Homo sapiens: one gene and its partners. The protein of the gene in region 1 interacts with the protein of each later gene in a pairwise test. Each region holds a gene or a part of one and is shown on either strand. Other genes may lie near its edges. The genes, in order: CHRM3, SEPTIN3 and JAKMIP1.

Evidence for each region.
Region 2: the proteins of CHRM3 (region 1) and SEPTIN3 interact in a two-hybrid assay, tested with the Homo sapiens proteins (one large-scale study listed by BioGRID and IntAct).
Region 3: the proteins of CHRM3 (region 1) and JAKMIP1 interact in a two-hybrid assay, tested with the Homo sapiens proteins (one large-scale study listed by BioGRID and IntAct).

The regions. Positions count from the first base shown.
Region 1 is NC_000001.11:239,911,065-239,914,716, forward strand, and holds part of CHRM3 (muscarinic acetylcholine receptor M3), read left to right. Parts: 3' UTR 1-3,652.
Region 2 is NC_000022.11:41,989,860-41,993,511, reverse strand, and holds part of SEPTIN3 (neuronal-specific septin-3), read right to left. Parts: intron 1,940-3,652; coding exon 1,844-1,939; intron 849-1,843; coding exon 749-848; intron 1-748. UniProt on the Homo sapiens protein: Filament-forming cytoskeletal GTPase. May play a role in cytokinesis.
Region 3 is NC_000004.12:6,078,398-6,082,049, forward strand, and holds part of JAKMIP1 (janus kinase and microtubule-interacting protein 1), read right to left. Parts: intron 3,359-3,652; coding exon 3,212-3,358; intron 1,916-3,211; coding exon 1,775-1,915; intron 602-1,774; coding exon 542-601; intron 1-541. UniProt on the Homo sapiens protein: Associates with microtubules and may play a role in the microtubule-dependent transport of the GABA-B receptor. May play a role in JAK1 signaling and regulate microtubule cytoskeleton rearrangements.

The DNA of each region.
Region 1 (3,652 bases):
TATTGGAGCTTTCCTGTGGCTAAGAAGAAGAAACATGTCATCCTGTTGGCATCACCAAGCACCTAACTCTTTCTAGGTAATAAAAAGTCAACGGTCACTTCAACGTAAATGTTTAAAACCACTCTTTAGTTAAATCTGATGGGAACTGAACAAAGCTCCACCATTGTGTCTGAAATCATTTTACACAGGGAAAAAAAAAAACAATCAGCATAATTGTAAGAATGATTTTTTTGGGCCCACATTCAACCAAAGAACAAGAAAGAAACAGACGATTTTCTAATATGTACACAGCAAACTACAGAATGTCATATTATCCACCTGTGAAACATCTAGTAAGCAATTGCATCTATATTTTATTTCTCAAGTTGGCCTGGCACTAATAAATATGTGAAAGCTTATTCAAGTGTCCCAGTACTTCAGCACTTCCCATCCTTTTGGAAACTCCTATCTTGCCTCCCTCCCAAAAGGGCTGTTTCTTTTATTAAAAAAAAAAAAGAAATAGAATTAAATTTGAGAAAAGGAGAAACCCTGAAATTTAACAGAACTTTGAGAGTCACTTCCAATCTCCTTAAACATGATTATCTCCTTATCCTTGTCCTTTTGTGATGCTAATAATAGCAGAAAAGGAACAAATCCAAGACTCTAGGTCTCCCTTTTTTGTTTTACTGGTTTTATTATAGAATTGTTTTTAAGCCTCTTATGGATGAAAGCTGCATTTAAATACTATCTACTGATTTTATAGAAAGGTATGTCCATTTCTTGGGTCACTTTCAGAGAAAGAAAACAAGCAAAATAGGTTCTTTTGAATATGAATAATTTAAAAGCATAATTGAAGATGTAGTGAGTATTTATAATTGGACCTTAGTTACACGTGCATTTCTCAAAGGGCTTGTCATTACAGGAGATATTCAGCACTTACCTAAGATCAAAATGTCTTCATCCCAAATTGGGAATCGAATTATTTCATGCCATATGCATGAGGTTTGCAGACATTTCAAGATTAGCCACTTTGCTTGAAAGAAGAAAATGATCAAACCTAAAATAAACTACACATGGAGAATCTCTCTCTCTCTCTCTGCCTCTCTCTCTCTCTTTCTCCCTCTTCTTCCTTCTCTCTCTCTCACAAGCACACACACACACACTCAATCTCCATTCTCCAGGCATTGCCAGATGGTTAGGAGAAGTGAGCTCTCTCTGGTCCCCTAGATCCCTCGGCTCTGCTCTCCTTTGCCCATCAGCTCCCTGTGGCCTCTATGCTAGTCCTCCCTATTCTCCTAGTCACCCTTTGCCTCTTAAGCCCAGCCTTGACTCTCTACATATTTTTCATTTCTCTTTACCCTTTAGTGTACAATAGTTGTAGACTCTGACGGAATGAAAACAAACAAGAAGCCTAAGCGTTAGACCCTGCTGTGGCTAAAGATCTAGAAGGCATATCAGTTTTCTCTGTCAGGCTTCCTACGTTGCCCTCGTGCAGGGCTCATTGCTCTGCAGAGCGCTGGAAGCCCCTTCATGTATCGAGAGAGAAGCTGGAGCACAGAGCTCTGATGCACAGTTGGCTGTTTCAGCTCTGACTCAGGGAGGAAAGAAGGATGCCAAGGCTCTGTCACAGCGGAGAAGTCTAATACCAGAGTGGCACAGAGAAGGATTCCAGGGATCAGTCAGGGTGTCCTGTACCTATCTGAGTAGAGATGATTCAAGGATGGGGACATATTCCAGGAAATTGCACAATCTTCCCCTGGCAGCTTCAGAGGACGAGTGAAAATAGTGCAGTATAGTCAAAGAAGCAATGAATTTAGGATGAGGAACCTGAAGTTTCTGGACCAGTTTGGTCACTGCTTAGTTACATGTCCTTAGGAATGCTTGTCACTTAACCTAAACTTTCTGGGTTTTATCCTCATTGCTCAAACTAAGCAACAACACCGAAGCTTCTCTAATTTGCCTTCTGATGCCAAATCGGTCAAAACTGAGGTCAGCAGCTACCATGACGAAAGTAAAATGGTATATTGGGTGAATGTTTGAAAATTTCAGATTTTATATTCTGTAAAGTTATTTACTTACTCTATTTCAACACCACAAAATCTTGAAATTTGGAAGGTAACCAAGGAAGCTTTGAAATTTGTTGGCAAACCCGGAGTAGTATGGTTTCAAATACCACTCCAACCCAGCACCTGAGGTCGGGCAAACTCACAAAATAGAGTTTCTAGGTAGCAGGTGTTTGCTTTGGTTTTGCAATAGCATTTCTCATAACAGAACTGAAACTGTATAGATTACAACACTCCAAAGTTATTTTTTTTTAACCTAAAGAACCCTACTTCTAGCACCTCCTCTGAAAGAATATTTTGCTCCAATACCACGTGCAACAAACTTATTTAGACAGTATCAACTCTAGCCCTTAATAGGTTCAAGGACAAGTTTACTGCTTCCTTTCTACACGCTTAAGTTACACTCTCTTCTCCTGTTCTGATGACTCTAAATCTTCAGCCTCTCCCAGCATTAATGTGTGAGTCAACATTGCAGACCTGAGAAAGGTTTCTAGAATGGTAACCCAATGTTCTTTAGAACTGGAGAATTCCATTTTCCTTTTCTGGCTTTAGTGTTAATGTCTGGGAAGGGAGGCTCATGATAAGAAAATAAAAATGAGAAAAGAAGATCTAGTTCATAAAATGACTATACCCCACGTAAGTTTGTAACTGCACAGTGTTTTGTTGTACGGCTCAGAAATGAGCAAGTGTTAGTATTATTAGGCACACATCACGTTCACAGCTTCGCGCAGAGACGGATAGTGTATTTGGATATATGGAAGTCATCCAAATGCGTTGCTAGAATATCAGGCCTATGTTTGTTCTGGTAGAACCACAGAGACTCACACAAAGTTCTGACCCTACCACTCTGGTCTGGGCTGAGACCACCCCAAAAAATCATCTAGAGAATCAAAGGGGCTCACATCTCAGTTGCATTCTATTTAAAAGATAAAGGGGCCATACTCTCCACTGCAAAGAAGCATTAGTAAAACTTCCCGCACCCAAATTATAATCCGGCAACCCTAGCTTCAGCTAAAAAGATTATCCCCAGAATCTAAAAGCTTACTATTGTTCTTTCTTGGAGTCCAAAATGCTTAGCAGTTCTGCAGTTCACATACAAAACTCAAAACTCTTTTTATCCTGTATTCTGTGAGTTCCTTGATGATAGTAATTGGGTCTTATTCATCACTCTGTATCCTGTGGCTCACACAGAATCTGGCAAATTGCATATATTCAATAAATGTTGAATATCTAATAACCTCCTTATTAATATAACAAATATTATCAACATTCTGTGCACATCAATGTCCCATGCTGCTACTGTAGTCAGGAGTTATTTGGCTGGGAAGTGGAAAGTGTTCACAAACATGATGCTTATCTAATAAAATATCACTGAGCAATAAGGAGAAATATTTTAAATAGATTTGAAGTTGTGAACAAATAATTTAGAGTCCAAAGAGGAAAAAGAAAATTAACTCTGTTTTTTATCCCTAGAACTCAGAAACTTTACTGGATTGGTCAACAAAGACAAACTTTTTATTGTATAAAACAGTAGAATTCATGGAAGGGATAATTCTTTTGGAACAGGCTTCTCGGTTACTTGCCTTAGTAAAAGAAGTATCTGGAGGGCC
Region 2 (3,652 bases), on another chromosome or scaffold:
AATTTTTGGGGATAAATAAAAAATACAAAAATCGGGGTCCGCACCTGTAGTCCCAGATACTTGGGAGACTAAGGCAGAAGAATTACTTGAACCTGGGAGGCAGAGGTTGCAGTGAGCTGAGATTGCGCCACTGCACTCCAGCCTGGATGACAGAGTGAGACTCCGTCTCAAAAAAAAAAAAAATCTGAGTCTGAAATCAAGTTTCACCACTAACAAGTTATGTGCTTTGGACAAGGCTTTTAACCTGAGCTTCCGGTGCTTTGGTAGCTTATACTCTGAGAACAGGAGCACCCGCTCTCCTCCCTTCATAGGGTTATCATATTGAATGAAATCATTAAAGTGATTCTTTGACCACTTTCAGAATCATCAAGACCCGCCCAGGGTCACATCCATTCATAATAAAATGGAAATGGCAACACCTGAACAACCCTCCGGCAGTTTGTCAGATCACATCCCCCTTCCTATGAAAACCTTTCTCCAGTTTTTCCAGGCCTTACTAATCTCTCCATGTTCTGAACTCCTTTGATGCGCTAAGTCAGTGCCACCCAGTCAGGTGCTAAATCAGTCTCTTGTTACTCCTGCCTGTGAGCATCGTCTTCTCAATGAGACTGTAAGCTCCTTATGGGCAGAATCTGGCTGGCATTCATTTCATATGTCCTGAGACAGTGCCTTGACCTATAGATGCTTAATAAATGGTGACTGGATAACTGATCAGCAACCAGTTCTTCCAGAAGATGCAGTGAATTACCTTCGATGATCCCCCATGGAGTTTTTCGGCCGAGGACCCTCTTGCCATTCACTTGGTACTCCTTGTCACTTCCCACCACAGCAAAAGGCATGCTCTCCTGCTGCACGGGGCAGAAACACAAACCAGACACATGTGCACCGTCATCCTCCAACAACCTGGACTTTCAGGAGCAGGATGGCATATGGTCCTCTAGCCTTGAACCACACACTTCTGATGCTCATTCAGAGATACTACTGATGGCAAGGGCAAGGCTCAGTCTCTTGAAAAGAGCACCCGACTGAGATTGAAGAGTCCTGGGTCTAGTCCCAATTGTACCACTGCCTCACTGGTTAACCTCAGGAATCAGCTCTCCTTCAGCTGCAGAGCGCTTTGTACTTTCTTTTTTGAGACAGAGTTCGCTCTTGTTGCCCAGGCTGGAGTGCAATGGCACAATTTCAACTCACTGCAACCTCCACCTCCTGGCTTCAAGCAATTCTCCTGCCTCAGCCTCCCGAGTAGCTGGGATTACAGGCATGCGCCACCATGCCTGGCTAATTTTTGCAGGTTTTGTAGAGATAAGTTTTTGCCATGTTGCCCAGGCTGGTCGTGAACTCCTGGGCTCAAGCGATTCTCCCACCTAGGCCTCCCAAAGTGCTGGGATACAGGCATGAGTCACCACGCCCAGCCAATTTAATTTTTTTAAGTTATTCTAGCGGGGGAAGCCTATAAGCCACTCAGTCTAACCCCTGCATTTCATAGAGGGGAAACTAAGGCAGGGTCTGACCACAGCATAGATCCTCCTGGACCCCAGCCTGATGCTCTTCCTGCCTGCTGCCCCTCCCATCACCCCAAATACTGTTTTTGCCAGACCTTGTTGGGGAAAAGGAGGCTTTTATGTGGTCTGGGGATAGAAGGCTTTCTGGGTACAGGGAGCCCTTCTGTGGGTTCACAGTCCAGGGCCATAGTCCTCCCCATCCCCCTATGTCACTTCTGGTCTGGGTCAGGCAAGGTTGGGGGGAGTACAGAAAGGGAAAAGACAGACAGAGGACGTGCACAATACACATCCCAGAGGTCGCAAGGGGGCATCAGTGGAGGAGCAGTGCCCCAGGCACCCACCCTGATTTTGTCATTCTCCGTCTTATCCTCCAAATCCTCATCAAATTCCTTCTGGGGGTAGAATTCAATGCCATTTACTTCAAGCTCCTTGCGAACCTAGAGGCGAGGAGAAGAAACAAGGTAGTCAAGTGTCAGGGTAATGGAAAAGAGGGGTGTGTGCACCTGTGTGCGTGAGCTGAGGTCAGAGAGCCAAATCCAGCCTTGGATAATCCACAGTCATCTCTGAACTCTGAGACCCTGAGCAGCAGGAAGATGGTGAATAAATGCAAGCCCCAGCTATACAATTACAACCTAGCCTGAGAGGAGGAAGAGGCCAGGAGGTGCAACTTCAGGTCCCAGGCGCCTCGCAACCAGCTTGCTCATCTCAGGGTCCGCGAGACTGGGATTTACACAAGCAGCACAGGTGAGCCCACTGGGGAGTGCTCAGACCCCTGCATGTTATATTCCTGATTGGAAGGAAGAAAGGTGAGGCTCCCCCTACTCCGAGACTGTTTGCCCTCTTTCAAGGTCGACTTAAGTCTTGCCTTCTCCAGGAAACCATCCAGGACCTCTTCATTTTCTATTTGATTATAAGTTTTGTTTGTTTGTTGTTTGTTTGTTTGTTTGAGACCGAGTCTTGCTCTGTTGCCCAGGCTGGAGTACCGTGGTGCGATCTTGGCTCACTACAACCTCCACCTCCCGGGTTCCAGTGATTCTCCTGCCTCAGCCTCCCTAGTAGCTGGGCTTACAGGCATATGCCACCACGCCCAGCTAATTTTTGTATTTTTAGTAGAAATGGGGTTTCACCATGTTGGCCAGGCTGGTCTCGAACTCCTGACCTTAGGTGATCCACCCGCCTTGGCCTCCCAAAGTGCTGGGATTACAGGCGTGAGCCACCGCCCCCAGCCAATTGTAAGTTTCTTTTTTTTTTTTTTTTTTTTTTTGAGATAGAGTGTCACTTTGTCGCCCAGGCTGGAGTACAGTAGCACGATCTCAGCTCACTGCAAGCGCCGCCTCTCGGGTTCATGCCATTCTCCTGCCTCAGCCTCCTGAGTAGCTGGGACTACAGGCACCCGCCACCACACCCGGCTAATTTTTTTGTATTTTTAGTAGAGACGGGGTTTCACCGTGTTAGCCAGGATGGTCTTGATCTCCTGACTTCGTGATTCACCCGCCTCTGCCTCCCAAAGTGCTGGGATTACAGGCATGAGCCACCACGCCCAACTGGATTGTAAATTTCTTAAAGGCAGCAATTGTCTTTTCATTTCTCTCAAATCGCCCCTCCCCAACCCTGTACATCCAGCACAGGGCTGAGCTTATAGAACATGCCAGTGAGGGCTGGGCACGGTGGCTCACGCCTGTAATCCCAGCACTTTGGGAGGCCGAGGCGGGCAGATCACGAGGTCAGGAGATCAAGACTAGCCGAGACCATCCTGGCTAACACAGTGAAACCCCATCTCTACTAAAAAGAGAAAAACAAAATTAGCCAGGCGTGGTGGTGGGTGCCTGTAGTCCTAGCTACTCAGGAGGCTGAGGCAGGAGAATGGCGTGAACCCGTAAGGCGGAGCTTGCAGTGAGCCGAGATCACGCCACTGCACTCCAGCCTGGGCGACAGAGAGAGACTCCAAAAAAAAAACAAAGAGAAGATGCCAGTGAGGACTAGTGGCCAGTTGACTCACTAATTAGTCTAGCCCTTCAATTAGGCTAACGTTGGAGGAGTGATTTCTTATGTACACAGTGATACATGTATTCAGTGGTCTTCACAGGTAGGTTTGGAGGGTGGGAAGAAGGCAGCCCAGAGCTGTGCCATCTTTTCTTCATCATAGTCCC
Region 3 (3,652 bases), on another chromosome or scaffold:
TATGCTTTTTTTTTTTTTTTTGGTATCAGCTCCAGTGCGCTCTTTACATTCCAGATTGGTCCCTGTGGGCATTTGAATTTTATAAGCCCAGCTCCTTCAGACACTGTTACTAGGAAATAGCAAAAGACCTATATTTTCCAAAAAAGACTACAGTTCTGCATGATTCCAAAAAAACACAAAGCTCCTGATTTTTTTAGAACAGGATATGCTCTCATATAAACCAACCCTGAATGTCCCTTAAATCCTTCAAAAGGTTTAAGTATTTATGTTTTTAATTTTGGGTGAATATACCCTGAAGCCTAAGTGGAGAATACATCAGGAAGTTTTCCATGAATAAATTACAATAACTGGGTCACATGACACGGCCATATTTATGTTGCTTTGAGAGACGGTGATGACAGGCTTTTCATCATCAGGCATGCAGAGATGTGTGTGTCTGCTTCAGGACCCCTCTGTAAAACCTCCCCACTCCACGACCCATCTGCCCTGCAGATCCGTGACACAGCGGCAAGGTAGGGCAGGTGCACCATCGCAGGCTCACCTTGGGCGGTTTCAGACTTTTCCCTCGATGCCTTTTGGAGCGCAACAGCCGTTCTCTCTCCTAGAAGGAAACACAACGGTTGGCATTTCCAGCCAGCCTCACATCTCACAAACCAAAGCCACTGGCTCTCAAAGGGAGCTGGGCCTGCCCATCCGCACCAGGCATGGCTAGTTGAAGTTCTAAGTGCCCAAGTGATGGCTGCTTCTCTGAACTGAGAGCTACAGGGAGAGTTTATTATCCACCTTTTGACTTTATTGTTATTTCACTGAAATATATTTTTCATCCTAAGCTGCATTGAGTCTTTTGTGTAATGAAGCAAAGATGGATGGATAGATAGATGTATGCATAGATAAGTGGATGGAAGGATGAAAGAATGGGTGAGTGGATGGATGGATGGGTGGACAGATGGGTGGGTGGATGGATGGATGGATGGATGGGTGAAAGGAAGAAAGAGAGAAGTTAAAGAGGTAGAGGGAGATGGAGGCAGGCAAAATGAACATGAAAATTATAATCAAAGCCTTTTCTAGAATTTTGATCACTAGCTTTTCTATTCTTTGAAAACCAGTGCATGGAACCATCACACACCCACTTTGGTGAGCAGAACACGTTCTACTTCTAAGATCCAACTAAAGCTCCCTGCAGGTGTTCTCTGCCTGTTGCCGAAGTTCCTTTCACAGAGAGCTGTGGAATTCTCTGGATGCAATTCTCCACCGCTTAGGACATACTCAACCCCCTTTGATAGATGCACGCCCCATATACACGTCCAAAACTCACACAGGCAGTCTTAGCAAGGTGCTGGTCTGGTTATAAGGTTCAAGTTTGTGGGCCTAAACTCACAGTCTGCAACTGCTAAGCTAAAAACCAACCAACCAACCAACCAAACAAACAAAAAGCCTTCTCTGGAACAGATCATGCCCAGTCTCTAAAGGCCAAAAGACATCCTTAAAACTGATGCTTCTCAATCACAGCAAGCTAGGGAGAAGATGTGAGAAAAGGGTAGCCATGGAAACTGTCCCCAAGTACCAGTGATCTCATTTAAGCCAAGGCTGCTTAGTGGCAGAATGAAGCGGGAATGTGCACACCAGGGTGAGCTTGGTGAGTCCCAAAGTCAGCACTGCCTGACCCTGACCCAGCTCAGCAGCATCACCCTGAGCCCCAACACCCGTTCCTGACACCCATGTCAGCTGGTGCCACCCCTGCCAGGGGCAGCCGCGCCAGCTGTGCTAGATGTACCAGTGAGAGGTCGTCAATGACGTGCTGCTGCTCCAGCACCTGCAGCCTCAGGAACTCGATCTCCTGCTCATCCCTCGTCAGGCTGAGGTCATTCAAGGAGGTATGCCGCTTCAGAGACGCCTGCGCTGACAGCTTTTCTTTCTGCAGCCACAGGGAGACAGACCACCACAGGGTTACCCGCCAACAGTGTTTGTTAGGGACAGTGCTGGAGTGGAGCTCAGGGGTGCAGGGACAGAAGGATGGATGGGAGGATGAAAGAGATGATGGCCTGATATGGTTTGGCTGTGTCCCCACCCAAATCTCATCTTGAATTGCGGCTCCCAGAACTCCCGTGTGTTGTGGGAGGGGCCAGGTGGGAGATCATTGAATCATGGTGGCGGTTTCTCTCATACTATTCTCGTGGTTGTGAATAAGTCTCTGATGTTTTTATAAGGGTTTTCCCCTTTTACTTGGCTCTCAGTCTGTCTTGTCTGCCGCCAAGTAAGATGTGCCTTTAGCTTTCTGCCATGATTGTGAGGCCTCCCCAGCCACGTGAAACTGTGAGTCCATTAAACCTCTTTTTCTTTACAAATTACCCAGTCTCAGGTATGCCTTTATCAGCAGTGTGAAAATGGACTAATACGTGGCCACCTTGTCCTGTGCTGGAAGAGGGGACAGGGCAGACCAAAGCCAAGCCCAAGGTGGGGCTGACCATGCACACTGCTGACAGGAAGGGATGCGCAGGGCCTGGGGGTGGAAGACGACATTTGAAATGAGCCTAGAAACCTGGGAGGGGAAGGCAGGGGAAGGAGAGGACTTCACACAACAGCAATTACACACACACACACACACACACACACACACCTGCATCTGCTACAGTGCAGACAGCAGAGCATGTGTGGTGACAGAGCCTCCGTCTTCCCGGCTGTGAAGTGGGGGTTGATACTACTCTGAACAATGAACCTGAAATCATTCTGTAAACTGTCAACTACAAGACGCCTGCCCTGACCACAAACACCAGGCATCCTAGCTGGAGGAGAAACCCCTCTGCAGAGCATCGCCAGCGATCATTGTAACAGCTTTCACTTGCTGGGTGTCCTCTGGGCCCGTTCCCTGTGAGGTCTTTACATGCTGTTATTTCATCCTCTTGATGATCCTCCAGTGTGGATATTTTCATTCCCATTTTATGCATGAAGAAACAGAGGCTCAGAGAGAATGGGGGATGTGTTTAAGGACACAGCTGTCTGACTCCCTCTGGGCACAAACACCCACAGCACAGTGAATGTGAGACAGGTGGAGAGAAAGGCGAGACATCTGTGACTGACACTGTGCCTGGTGCTTTGTGGGGAGGTGGGCAGCAGGTGCGCCCCAGAACATGTGAATCGGGAGGTTCAGGGCTGAAGAATCCCAGACAGAGAAGGGAGTGTCAGGGCTGTCCCCAAGGGGTCCACAGCTCACCATTTCCACGTTTTCCCGCGTGAGGTTCTTGATTTTCTCCTCCATCCTCTGGATACTCTGCAACAGATCCTCATTCTTCTTGTTCATCCGCTTGTTCTTCTCCACCAGGGGCTTCAGCTGAACCTCGGTCTCTCGTGAGCGTTTCAGCTGTGGTTGGAAACAGACACAGAGGCTCAGACAACTTGACGACGGACGGCCGAGGTCACAGCACCGAGGTGAGCAGAGACTCAACCCAGTTAGGACCCCTTCTGAGGCCAGTGTCCTGGATGACACATTTGTTTGCTAGTTGCATGACAATGGGCAAGTTCTCAGCCTCAGTTTCCTCATCTATCAAATGAGAATCACGGCAGCTCCTGTCTCCTAGGCACATGGTGAGAATTGAATGCATAGTGGTAGTCTCCCAGTGTTATTTTCATGGAAAGAATTAGAAACAACTTAAAT